2 separate regions of the Homo sapiens genome follow, and region 1 is linked to region 2. Evidence: fine-mapped expression QTL. A gene starts in region 2. The other region holds a variant in brackets. All regions are shown on one strand. Distances are between the middles of the regions. Region 1 holds the start of LOC107986548 (a long non-coding RNA gene). Region 2 holds the start of FRMD1 (FERM domain containing 1).

Region 1 (5,363 bases), 22 kb after region 2:
TATTGCTTCTAAAACAACAAACAAAATTGTGAAACATCAGACAAAATCTGCATTGTAAACAACCTTGCCCTGCCACCTCTCCCAACACCGACTTTAAAAGCTTAGAAGCCCCGAGTGACAGCGTGGATAAGCAGACCAGCTCTAGTGCCTCCTTAGCTATGCGAGGCAGTCGCTGTACTTGCAGGAAGTGACTGAACCCCTGCAAGGCCGAAGCCCCTCCCTTAGCAGGGGCCGAACAGACCTCCTCGCCGGGAAAGCAGTGATCTGTGAGGCTGAGTCTGGGAATCCCCCTCTCCAGAAGAAATGAGATGCAGCCGCTCTCCAGGTGCTTAGGAGGAGCTGTGGGGTCTCAGCGGAGGAACTTCACCAAAGACAGTCAATGCAGAGCCGATACGTCCTGGCTAAACTGGATCTCCGTGGCAGGCGGCCCCGCCTGGCCTGGCTTTCGGGGAGACATTTCCTGCTGCATCCTGCAGAGAACACCCTGCGGTCCTCAGGTTCCTGACTTCCTTAGTCTTCTCGGGGCCTAAGGTTTCCTGAGTTCAAGTTCAAGTTCATATCTGAAGGGGTCTGACAGGCGCCAGGCCAGAATCCTGGATAACTGGCACCCCAATGACCACTCGGCTGTCTCTGGAAACTTCTCCATGGGTCTGGACCCCCTGCTCACCTCCGGGGTATGTGTTCCCAACTGTGGAGCTCATACAAGCCCACCAGGCCATTCTAGCCATGCCCAGAGACTGGAAGGGGCCCTGTAATGCACCCTGAGTCTCAAGAGGCCTCCCCATTGTGTGACCAAGCCCGGGGTGCCTGGTGACCTCTTGTGCTGCAATCCTGGGCACCAGAGAAACCTTCTAAAGCCCACGGGGGATAAAGGAGACACAAATGATGCTGAGTGGGGGACGACTAACAGAGCCCCCTGTGCCCCCGGCCAACCAGGCTGCACTCCCCGCCCCACCTGGAGTGGCTGGTGCTGGGGACGGCTCCTCCCCAGCTCCCGTTCTGTCTGCCTCTTTCTGCAGAAAGACAGACTACACCTGCCCTGGCCCGCGGGAGCACATAGGGTAGGTGAAGGCACAGCCCACTTTGGTTTTCAGTCGTCTTTTCCTTAATACTTAATGGGGCAGGGGGTGGGGGAGGTGGGGCTGGGGCGGGGAGGTCCCACAGAGGAGGGCTGAAGTTCTGAAGAGGCATGGGTGGGGAGAGGCGGCATGGGTCGGGGGAGACGAGATTTAGGGCCACCCAGCGACGGCGCCCCTTCCCCACCACCCCTGCTCAGTCTACTCAGGAAACATCACCACCTAGGCTCTTCCAGACCCTTCCGGACCCTTCCAGACCCTTCTGGAGGTCCTGCTCCCACGTTCGCTCACCTCCTACGCCAGCCTTACTTTCAAAGACGGGAGAAAGGGGGAGCTTTGGACGACCTCATGGAACAAAGGTGAGGATGTCTTCACTTTGGTAATTAAATGCTTAGATGTCATTTTGTGACCTGATGTCTGTTCCTGCCCCTGCAGCACACAAATCACTCAAACCTGCACCCTGGCCAGGGTCTGCACCTCCTGCTCCGAGCACTGGCGGTACCTCATCTCGGGTGCCAGCCTTTTGGCTCTGGAAGCAGCCACAGCTAGGACTGCCGCTGGGAGAGGAGAAAACTTGGTTTGTAGAAGGCAGGAGCAGAGCCTGACTCCAGGATCCTCCAGGCCTGTGTGGGCACCTTTTAGGGTCCAAAGCCCTCTAGAAACACGCTCCAAAAACCAAATTCCAGCCCACACCAGGGTGAGGGTGGGGTGGGGAAGGGCGTAAAGGCAGGCAGAGCTTCCGATTCCCTTAGCCAGCATCTGCTTCTGAGCGCAGAGCCGCGGGGAGGGCAGACAGGAGGCTAGGGGAGGGGACAGGGGAAGGGGGGGGTGTTGGACTGGAGGGGAGGTGGGGAGAGATGGGGGAAATAGCGGGAGGTAGGGAGGAGGTGGGAGGAGGTGAGGGGGAAGTGGGGGCGGGGGGGTAGGGCCAGGGCTCCTTCCAGAAGGCAGGCAGGGTGCACTTAGCCCGGGGCAGGGACCCCCATGGGCCGGCGGGTCCTCCTAGACCCGCCTCAGTCCTGGAAACCCCGAGGGGACGACAGCGGAAGCCGCCTGGGCCCTGCGCTCTGGGCCCTGGGGTGCAACCCCTGAAACTCGACAGTTAGCGCCACTCCCCGCCTCCGGGGTCCCCTCATCTGGTGGCGGCGGCTGGAGAAGGGCGCACCCCGCCCGCGGAGACCCACGCGCTCACCTTCCGGGGGCCGAGGTCCGGCTCGTCGTCCGGCTCAAGGCTCCGGGCCGTGGTCCCGCCGGCGGTGTAGAAGCGGCCGCCGCTCTTGTGCCCTCCGGGTGGGACCACGTGGGGAGGCAGCGGTGACCCCGGAGGGTGACGCGGCCCGGG[G/C]TCCGGATTGGCCGGCGCCGCCCGCCCCCTCCCCGCCCAGCCGACCCTCCCCGGCAGGAGCGCGGGCCGTGCAGGGTCTCGGGGGTCGAACCGTCCTGGAGGTCACACGGCCCCAGAGTTGCCTGTCCCAGGGGTCGCCCAGTCCGGAGGGTCGCTCCATCCCCGGGTCACACGTCCCCCGATTGCCCGGCCCAGGGCTGCAGCATCCCAGCCTTGCAGAGGCGATCGCGCCACCCACCCCAGACGGGCCGCTCCCTGCGCGGACGCACCGGGTTCGGCGCCTTGCAGGCTGCTGGCGACCCCGCTGCCGGGTTTCTCCCCGGACCTCACGGCCTGGACAGCACACTCGGAACGGCGGCATGCATTTGAAGCCATCGCTGCCTGCGTTGTCGGTGGATGCGGTGGACCCGGGGCGGGCAGTGCGGAGCGCGGAGGGGAGACCTGCCCTGGGGCACAGTGGCGGGGAGGGGATGGTCCTGGGGTTTGCATGGGTGATGGGACAGTTCCAGCCCCGAGAGCGGGAAGACGACGCGGCGGTGGAGCTCTAGGAAGGGATGGATGTTATCACCGTGCAAAACCAGACCACCGCCCAGGAGGGCAGTTGAAGCTTCACTGGCCCAGGGCGATTTGCCCCGTCTGAGGGTGACATTTGGGCAGACACCTTTAGGAACGAGGGAGGAGGCCTCTTGGATATTTAGGGGGAAGTCGGGGGTCCCAAATTGAGGACCAGCAAGTGCAGAGGCCCCAGGCACGCTGGGGGCTGAGAGAGAGCAAAGAGAGGGAGAGAGGGCGTCATTCCTGACCCCTGAGGCTGAGCTCCCAGAACCCAGCCTTGGCTGTGTTCTGAGACTCTGGGGAACCAGGTTCCAGGCCGCCCAGCATCAGGGCTCGGGGCGTTTCTCTACCGTCCTGGTTTGGATTTCTCCTTCCCCTTCCTCCCCCTGCCCCAGGCCTCATATGTTCCCAGTTTTCCTTCAGTGCTGATCTTCCAGCATATAATACTATTTAGCCATTCATTTTGACAGCCTCCCCCAGTTAGAATTTAAGTGCCAGCAGGGCAGATATTTTTTATCTGTTTTGTTTACTGCTGAAACCCAAGCACCTCCAAGAGCTGCTGGCACTGGAGAGTTCTTGGCGGAATGAATAATTCATGTATCAGGGCCCAGATCAAATACAGCAGCTCAGGTAGAGTCCTCCCACTCCATTCAGTCATGTCAGCGCACCTGGCACCTTGCCTTAGGGGAAGTAGCTCCTACGTGGATTTAATTCCCTTCTCCTCCTCTTCCTTCTGCACTCCAGCAGGAACAGAGCAATGCACCATTTAAATGAAGGTGGTTCATGCCATCCACACACTTGCACAATAAGGACAACTGGGTGGCAAAGAGCTCGAGGGTTGAATCAAGAGGTCACAGACCAGCAGGAGCCAGAAACTAAGACGGGCTTGATGTTGTGGTGCCTGGGTGTTGTGTATCTGCCCTGGGTGATTTTTGCTTTTTGTTTATTTATAAGCTGGTAGCAGACAGGTGACGACTTCTGTATTCACCTGCCCGGGTAGTCTGGAAGCAGCCTCTTCGTCACACCTTTCACCCAGGCAGTGAGCCCACTCTTGGTCCACTCTGATCTCCATGGGGCCCTTGCTCAGTCATTGCGTCTGGTCCTGTGCTCTGTGGAGATGGACTTGGTCCTCCACATAGCCCCGGATGACAGCCTGCCTGCTGTTTGGAGCTGGCTGTGATCTCATCTTTGAATCACATCTCAGCGTTGCCTCTTTCCCTTGTAGACCTCTTTATTCTCTGCATTGCCACAAAATGACGTGCATGTGAGTATTACGAGGTTACTTTGTGAAAAGGGTGTTGAAATAACAGGTATTGCTGATGTCCAGTACATAAGTGTGTCAGTGTACGCAGAGTTATCACACATGGCAGCAGCGACTTGATGGAGAGAGCGAATTGGGATTTAACTCAGGAGCCTCTTCAGTGTCACAACGACTCGGCAGCAATGGCCCTGCCTGGTCTAACTTACAGGACACACAACTCGTCAATCCTCATGTGTCCAGAAGGTGCTAGAATGACAGCTGCTGGTGCTGCCGTGATGCCACCCACCTGGAGACGTGGTTCCCTGGCGTGAGGGGACGTTTTATGTGACATTTGTATAATAAAACAGCAAATGGCTCTTGACTGTTCGGATTGGGAGTTTAATGCTTCTTTCTCCCTAGAAAAAGATAAAAAATTTTATGCCTGGGGAAGAGGAAGAGGAGGAGGACAAGGATATCACTTCAAATTTTAATGGAGAAGACAAGGAAGACAATTTGAAAAAACCATGTTTTAATATTTACAGAGAAAAGTGTCTGGAGGGAAATATATTAAAATACATCAAAAGGAGTAAGATGTCCAGGTTTTTTTTGTTTTTGTTTTTTTTTTTTTTTGCTTGTTGATTTTTAAAAACAAATAGTTATTTGTATAATAAGGATTAACAAAAAAAAAATGAAAACAACCTTGCTGAAAAGTAAATGTTTTAATTCTAGGAAACAAGGTGGTTTCCCTGTGTTTGATTTCTGGCTGCAAACGGAGCAGAGCTTTAGGACCAGGAGCCAGCAGCCTGGCTCTTCATACCTGCTGCGGCCAGGAGAGGTGCAGCCTCTCACTGTCAGTCATCTGGTCTCTAGCAGCTTCTTGAGTAACTCGCCCCAAAGCACCTGTGTCAGTTTCTCCTCGGGGAGCGCTCCTGCAGTAAAATTTGGCCCCAGGTGTGTTGTATTTTGTTGCTTTAAAAGGCTCCCATTGCCCTTCTCTGAACGTCAGCTTTGTCTTTGGACCACACCCGCCTGAAATCCATGTTCCCGACACTGGCCTTGGCTGCCATGCCTCACCATGTGAGTTTTCTCTTAAATGGAACAGTTGTGAAGAGATTTTTTTCTTTGTTTTTGGTGTCTTGCTTTTTAAAGG
Region 2 (5,363 bases):
ATGTCTTTATTAGCAGCGTGAGAACAGACTAATATGATTATTGTCTGCTTAACTTGGTGAGGGGCAGGCCCCACAATGACGGTAACACAGATCTTCAGTGAGGGTCTTCCCAGCCCATCCCTTTCGAATAACTGGGCTTGACACATATTTGGTTGAATACAGGGTTCCTGTCTAACTGCAGACACAGGTGTGCACACACTCCAATAGAGCGTTCCCTGTCTAACTACAGATACACACGAGTATACACCCCAATAGAGGGTTCCTGTCCAACTGTAGATACGGATGCGTGCACACCCCAACAGAGGGTTCCTGTCCAACTGCAGACACAGATGCATGCACACCCCAACAGAGGGTTCCTCTCCTACTGCAGACTCAGATGCATGCACACCCCAACAGAGGGTTGCTGTCCTACTGCAGACAGAGATGTGTGCACACACCAACAGAGGGTTCCTCTCCTACTGCAGACACAGATGCATGCACATCTGATAGAGGGTTCCTCTCCTACTGCAGACACAGATGTGTGCACACCTCAATAGGGGGTTTCTGTCCAACTGCAGACACAGATGTGCACACACTCCGATGGGGGGGGGTTCTTGTCTAACTGCAGACATAGACGACTGCAAACCCCAATGAGGGGTTCCTGTCCAACTGCAGACACAGATGTGCACACACCCTGTGGGGGGGTTCCTGTCTAACTGCAGACATAGATGACTGCACAACCCAGTGAGGGGTTCCTGTCCAACTGCAGACACAGATGTGCACACACCCTGTGGGGGGGTTCCTGTCTAACTGCAGACATAGATGACTGCACAACCCAGTGAGGGGTTCCTGTCCAACTGCAGACACAGATGTGCGCACACCCCGATAGGAAGTGGCTCTGTGGTTGCCAACTTGCCAGGCCCAGCAGGGGCCACAGGAGTTGCAGAGGCACTTCAGGGAGCTCCGTCAAAAGCAGATGAGCACGATTCACCTGTTCAGAACAGGCGGTTCACTATGTTCTAGCTGCATGATCCCTCAGTTAAAATCTTACCGTGAAGTTCCGTGCAAGAAACCTAAAAGTTCCAGCTCTTATGGGGTAGGGGGCCAAAGCCCCAGCATCTTCCCCACAACAGGTCCTCTTATGACCCCTCCCCCAGCCCGAGGCACTGCTGGGGACCCCAGGAAACTACAGGACATCCCCCATTAGCTCAACTCCAGCTTCTCGTTGCTGGGTGGGGACACAGAGTCTTGGGGAAGATTTTGCCACAAACATAGATGTGGGCGTTTACGTAAACACAGAACTCTATCCCGAAGCAGACAAGAGACTCCCAGATTCCCAGGGGACTTGAACCAGGATATTACTAGCAAGTCATACTCCATTCCAGGTAGCAATGATACATTAGCTATGCAGAAAGTCATCGTTCTTCAACAAACCACTCTCATTTTAATTGCCACATTTTCATTATCCACATTAATCATTAAAATGAAAGTACCATCTCAACTCCTGTCGCCATGAACTCAACTAAAACAGGTAGACAAAATGGGGGAAAGGGAAAAGAAAAGGAAATAGAGAAGCATAGAGATGGTGACGTCTGAACACAAGACAGGAGCTGCTCCTTGGAAACCGGCTTCCTGGCGCTCTTCCCTCAGCGCTCCCTCCCGGGAAGGATGTGCTGAACCATAAACTTATTTCTCACAGCAACGTCTATCAGGGATGTTTCCTTCACAGGCCCAGTGAAAGGGCTGGCCCTTGACACCTCACAGACACCTGGCCTAAGCAGAGTGAGGCGGTCCAGGGACTTTCCATACACAGGCTGTGTCCTGAGGCTCTGCTCACCCCATACCCCTGCTCACCCCCACGGCCCTGCTCACCCCCACGGCTCTGCTCACCCTCACAGCCCTGCTCACCCCCACGGCTCTGCTCACCCTCACGGCCCTGCTCACCCCCACAGCCTTGCTCACCCCCACGGCCACCCAGGGCCCTGCTCACCCCCATGGCTCTGCTCACCCCCACAGCCCTGCTCACCCCTATGGCCACCCAGGGCCCTCCTCACCCCCATGGCTCTGTTTACTCCCAAGGCCATCCAGGGCCCTGCTCACCCCCACGGCCACCCAGGGCCCTGCTCACCCCCACGGCCACCCGGAGCCCTGCTCACCCCCACAGCTCTGTTTACCCCCACGGCCACCCAGGGCCCTGCTCACCCCCACGGCCAGCCGCAGTTGCTCCCGGCTGGGCAGCAGCACGAGGACATCCCTGTGTTCCGAGGCCATCGCGTCCATTCCCAGGGTCGGCTCCTGCTGACTGCATGCAGGCCTCTCAGGACTGGGTTCCATACATCGCGCCCCTGAAGGAGGGAACGTGTCAGGGTTTGTCCGGGCGGGGTCTATGCCCCTCCCTCTCGGGGGCACCGCCATGCTGTCGTTACTCGGCCCTCCCCCGCCATGGGTCGCAGGTGGGTGCTCAGCACCTCCCAGATCACAGCTGTGCTTTCCGGGACCCGCCCTTGCCGAGCTTCTCACTGGGAAGGGAATTGAGAGGGAAGCCTGGGCTGGGAATCCAGCATGGCCAAGCCAGGACAAGGGTCAGAGCTGCAAATAGCTGGGTGTGTGGAGGGCGCCAGGAATGCAAATAAACAACCTCAGGCTGGGCACCCGCCATGCAGCACTCCCATGCAGGGTAGCTCAGCAGCCAGCCTCGGTGTGGGCCCCGTGAGAACCAGGCTGGGGGAGACAGGACCCAACTCCTCCACCTGACAACCCCTATCTCCTCAGGGTGCCTGCTCCTTCTTCTATAATGTGGAGAGGGCTATGCAAACCCCATGGGCACAGATGCCAGAGCCAGGGCTGCTGGGGAAGATGGAGCAGCAGCAGGGCAGGACGAGGAGGGCGGGAGGAAGGCAGCCTGGGTGGGCACCCTGCCCCACACACCTCCTGTGGCATCTGTTATCGACCTCAGGAAGCAGCACAGCTGCCGTTCCTGGACAGGTTCTGCCAGGAGGGACCCTGGCTCCCTTTAGGGGCTGGAAACTGAGGACACTTCCTTCCTTGTCCAGGGCCAGCAAATCCCTTCCTGCCTGCAGCAGCTGGAAGGCCAGGAAGGGGGTCCTGGCTTGCGTGGACAGCAGCCGGGTGCATCAGCACGAGGGGTGGGGACATCTCCCGCAGGGCCTGGAACCCCTGAGGCCGCTCAGCAGAGATGAGCAACGCCTTCGAGCTCTTTGGCACAGTGTTAGGTGGGGAAGGGACCCCAGGATCCTGCCTGGCCCTGGGACCACCCAGACCTTTGGGCGCTGCAGGTCAGGAGAGGCAGTTCCCACGGGCCTGGGCTGTGGAATTCTGTCCTCAGCCGTGAGCTCCATCAGTTTCCTGCCATGGAGTCTGGGATGCTCTGGGACCTTCCTCTAGTAAGGGGTCTGGACCTCCGGACGGGCCGTTGTTCATCTTAGGAAATTCGCACTCCAGCCGCCTTAAGGCCTGGCCCGGTGGGTTTAGGAAATTCGCACTCCAGCCGCCCTAAGGCCCGGCCCGGTGGGTTGAGAAGATTTAGGAGGCTTAGGCCTCACCTCCCCCGGACCCTGGACTGACACTGGCTCCCTCCCTCCCTCCCTCCGCTCAGATCCAGACCCTTCCCAGACCCTCGAGGCCACACATGTGTGCCCAAGACAGCAGTGGCGGTCTCTTTTCTCTCCACAGCAAACGTAGAGCTGTTCACTATGGAAGATGTGGGGATCCCTTTAGCTGAGAGCACAAAAAGTTTTAAAAATGGCAAAAAAACCACAAAAAAAAACAGCCCCAGAGAGCAGAGGCTGGATCCTCATGGCCCTGTGCCACTGGCGCCTGAGCAGCTCGTCCCTGTGCCGGGTGCCCTCAGCCGCTGCCTGGAGTCACAGTGCCGGCGTATCAGGAAGGGCGGCAGCAGCTGCACCTCTCAGGATGCCTGGGCGCAGGACAGTGGCAGAGGGCAGGCAGGGGCCAGGGTTGGGGGGTGGCAGAACACCACCGGCACACACAGCACAGAGGGGACAACAGGCACCAGGACCCCTCGGTGGGGAGAGCCGGGGACACGGTGGGGAGTTGTGCTGGGTGCACTAATGATCAAAGCGATGGTTCCCCACGTGTGTGCAGGTGCTGGTGTGTGCGGGCGCTGGTTTGTGCGGGCGCTGGTGTGTGTGGGCGCTGGTGTGTGCGGGTGCTGGTGTGTGTGGGCGCTGGTGTGTGTGGGCGCTGGTGTGTACAGGTGACCGTGGGCCAATGAGCTCCAAACATCATTAGTGAGAAGAAAAGGAAAAGGAATGGAAACTCCACATTTGTATTGATAAACACAATAAATGGATTCTTGTCAAAGCAGGACGTCCCTGGCCCCAGCTCCTTCCTTCCCACCCAGAGTCTCAGGGCCACACCGTTGAGGTTCAGACCTCCAGTGAAGGCCGCCGTCCATCTGAGTGCCAGGGAGAGCTGGGCTTGGGAAGCCCCCGTTGTATTCCTGGGAGAGCGCGGCTTTTTCCTGAAAACGTGCTGAGGCTCCAAGGCAAGGGTGGTCGCCATGAGTACCTCCCGCCAGGGCACTGAGGGGACACCAGAACCTCTGTCCTCAGCTCATCAAGAAGACAACTTTGCACCCTGAGAAGGCAGAGGCGTGACCGGGCCCCAACACTGACCCCACCTCTGAATGTCTTGTCTTCTCGACTGGCCTGTTCGTGATGGAAGAGGCTGGCCTGCCACGTTCGTGATGTCAGGGCCGGGCAGTGGACGGGCAGAGGCCGCGAGGAAGAGGAGACCACCGCCCAGATCTCCTCATGGCTGAGCCCTGGAGTCCTCCTCGGCCCAACTCTCTCTTCTTCTGGACGGCTGGTTTCCATCCTCTATCATGAGATAGATAGAGGCCTGCTGAGAACATTCTAGAACTCAAGCTTCGGAGCTCTAGGTCCACAAAGCACAGGTTTTGGAAAACAATGTGGGAATGCTGTTCCGTGGTGAGAAGGAAGGCAGAACTGACACAGGCACAGGACTAAACATCCCACTGCAAGGGAGAAGCTGGATGCAAAAGGCCGGGCTCCATTCCGAGACATCCAGCAAAGGCAGCATCTTCGGGGCCAGGGAGCTGGCAGCAGGGACTGCAGAGGGGCGAGGTGTCCTCTGGGGGTGGTCGGATGGCAGTGATGGCTGCACAGTTCCTAAATGCTCTGAAGTTTATGAAACATTTCGCTTTAGAGGAATATATTTTACAGTATGCAAACTATATCTCAATAAAGCTGTTAAAATACACAAGTTATAAAACAGTCACGCAAAAAGCCTTCAAGATACGGCAGGAAGTGCACCTGTGCGCCATAGGTCAACCCATTCCACCATGTGGGCGTGAGTGTGAGACACGTGGGTGCTGTGTG

Evidence for each region. PIP is the estimated chance that this variant, and not a neighbour inherited with it, causes the effect.
Region 1: its variant is the best candidate, but not a certain one, in a credible set for the expression of FRMD1 in tibial nerve (GTEx, PIP 0.89).

The regions. Positions count from the first base shown.
Region 1 is chr6:168,099,157-168,104,519 of GRCh38, forward strand. It overlaps LOC107986548 (a long non-coding RNA gene), which reads left to right and starts at 148. Exons shown (of 3, transcript XR_001743903.2): 1 at 148-674; 2 at 1,020-1,061; 3 at 1,303-1,768. RefSeq lists an enhancer at 75-576. The variant G/C (reference allele first, on the strand shown) is at 2,419.
Region 2 is chr6:168,076,701-168,082,063 of GRCh38, forward strand. It overlaps FRMD1 (FERM domain containing 1), which reads right to left and starts at 2,512. Exons shown (of 11, transcript NM_024919.6): 1 at 2,182-2,512. The coding sequence starts at 2,394. RefSeq lists enhancers at 1,503-2,224, 5,153-5,363.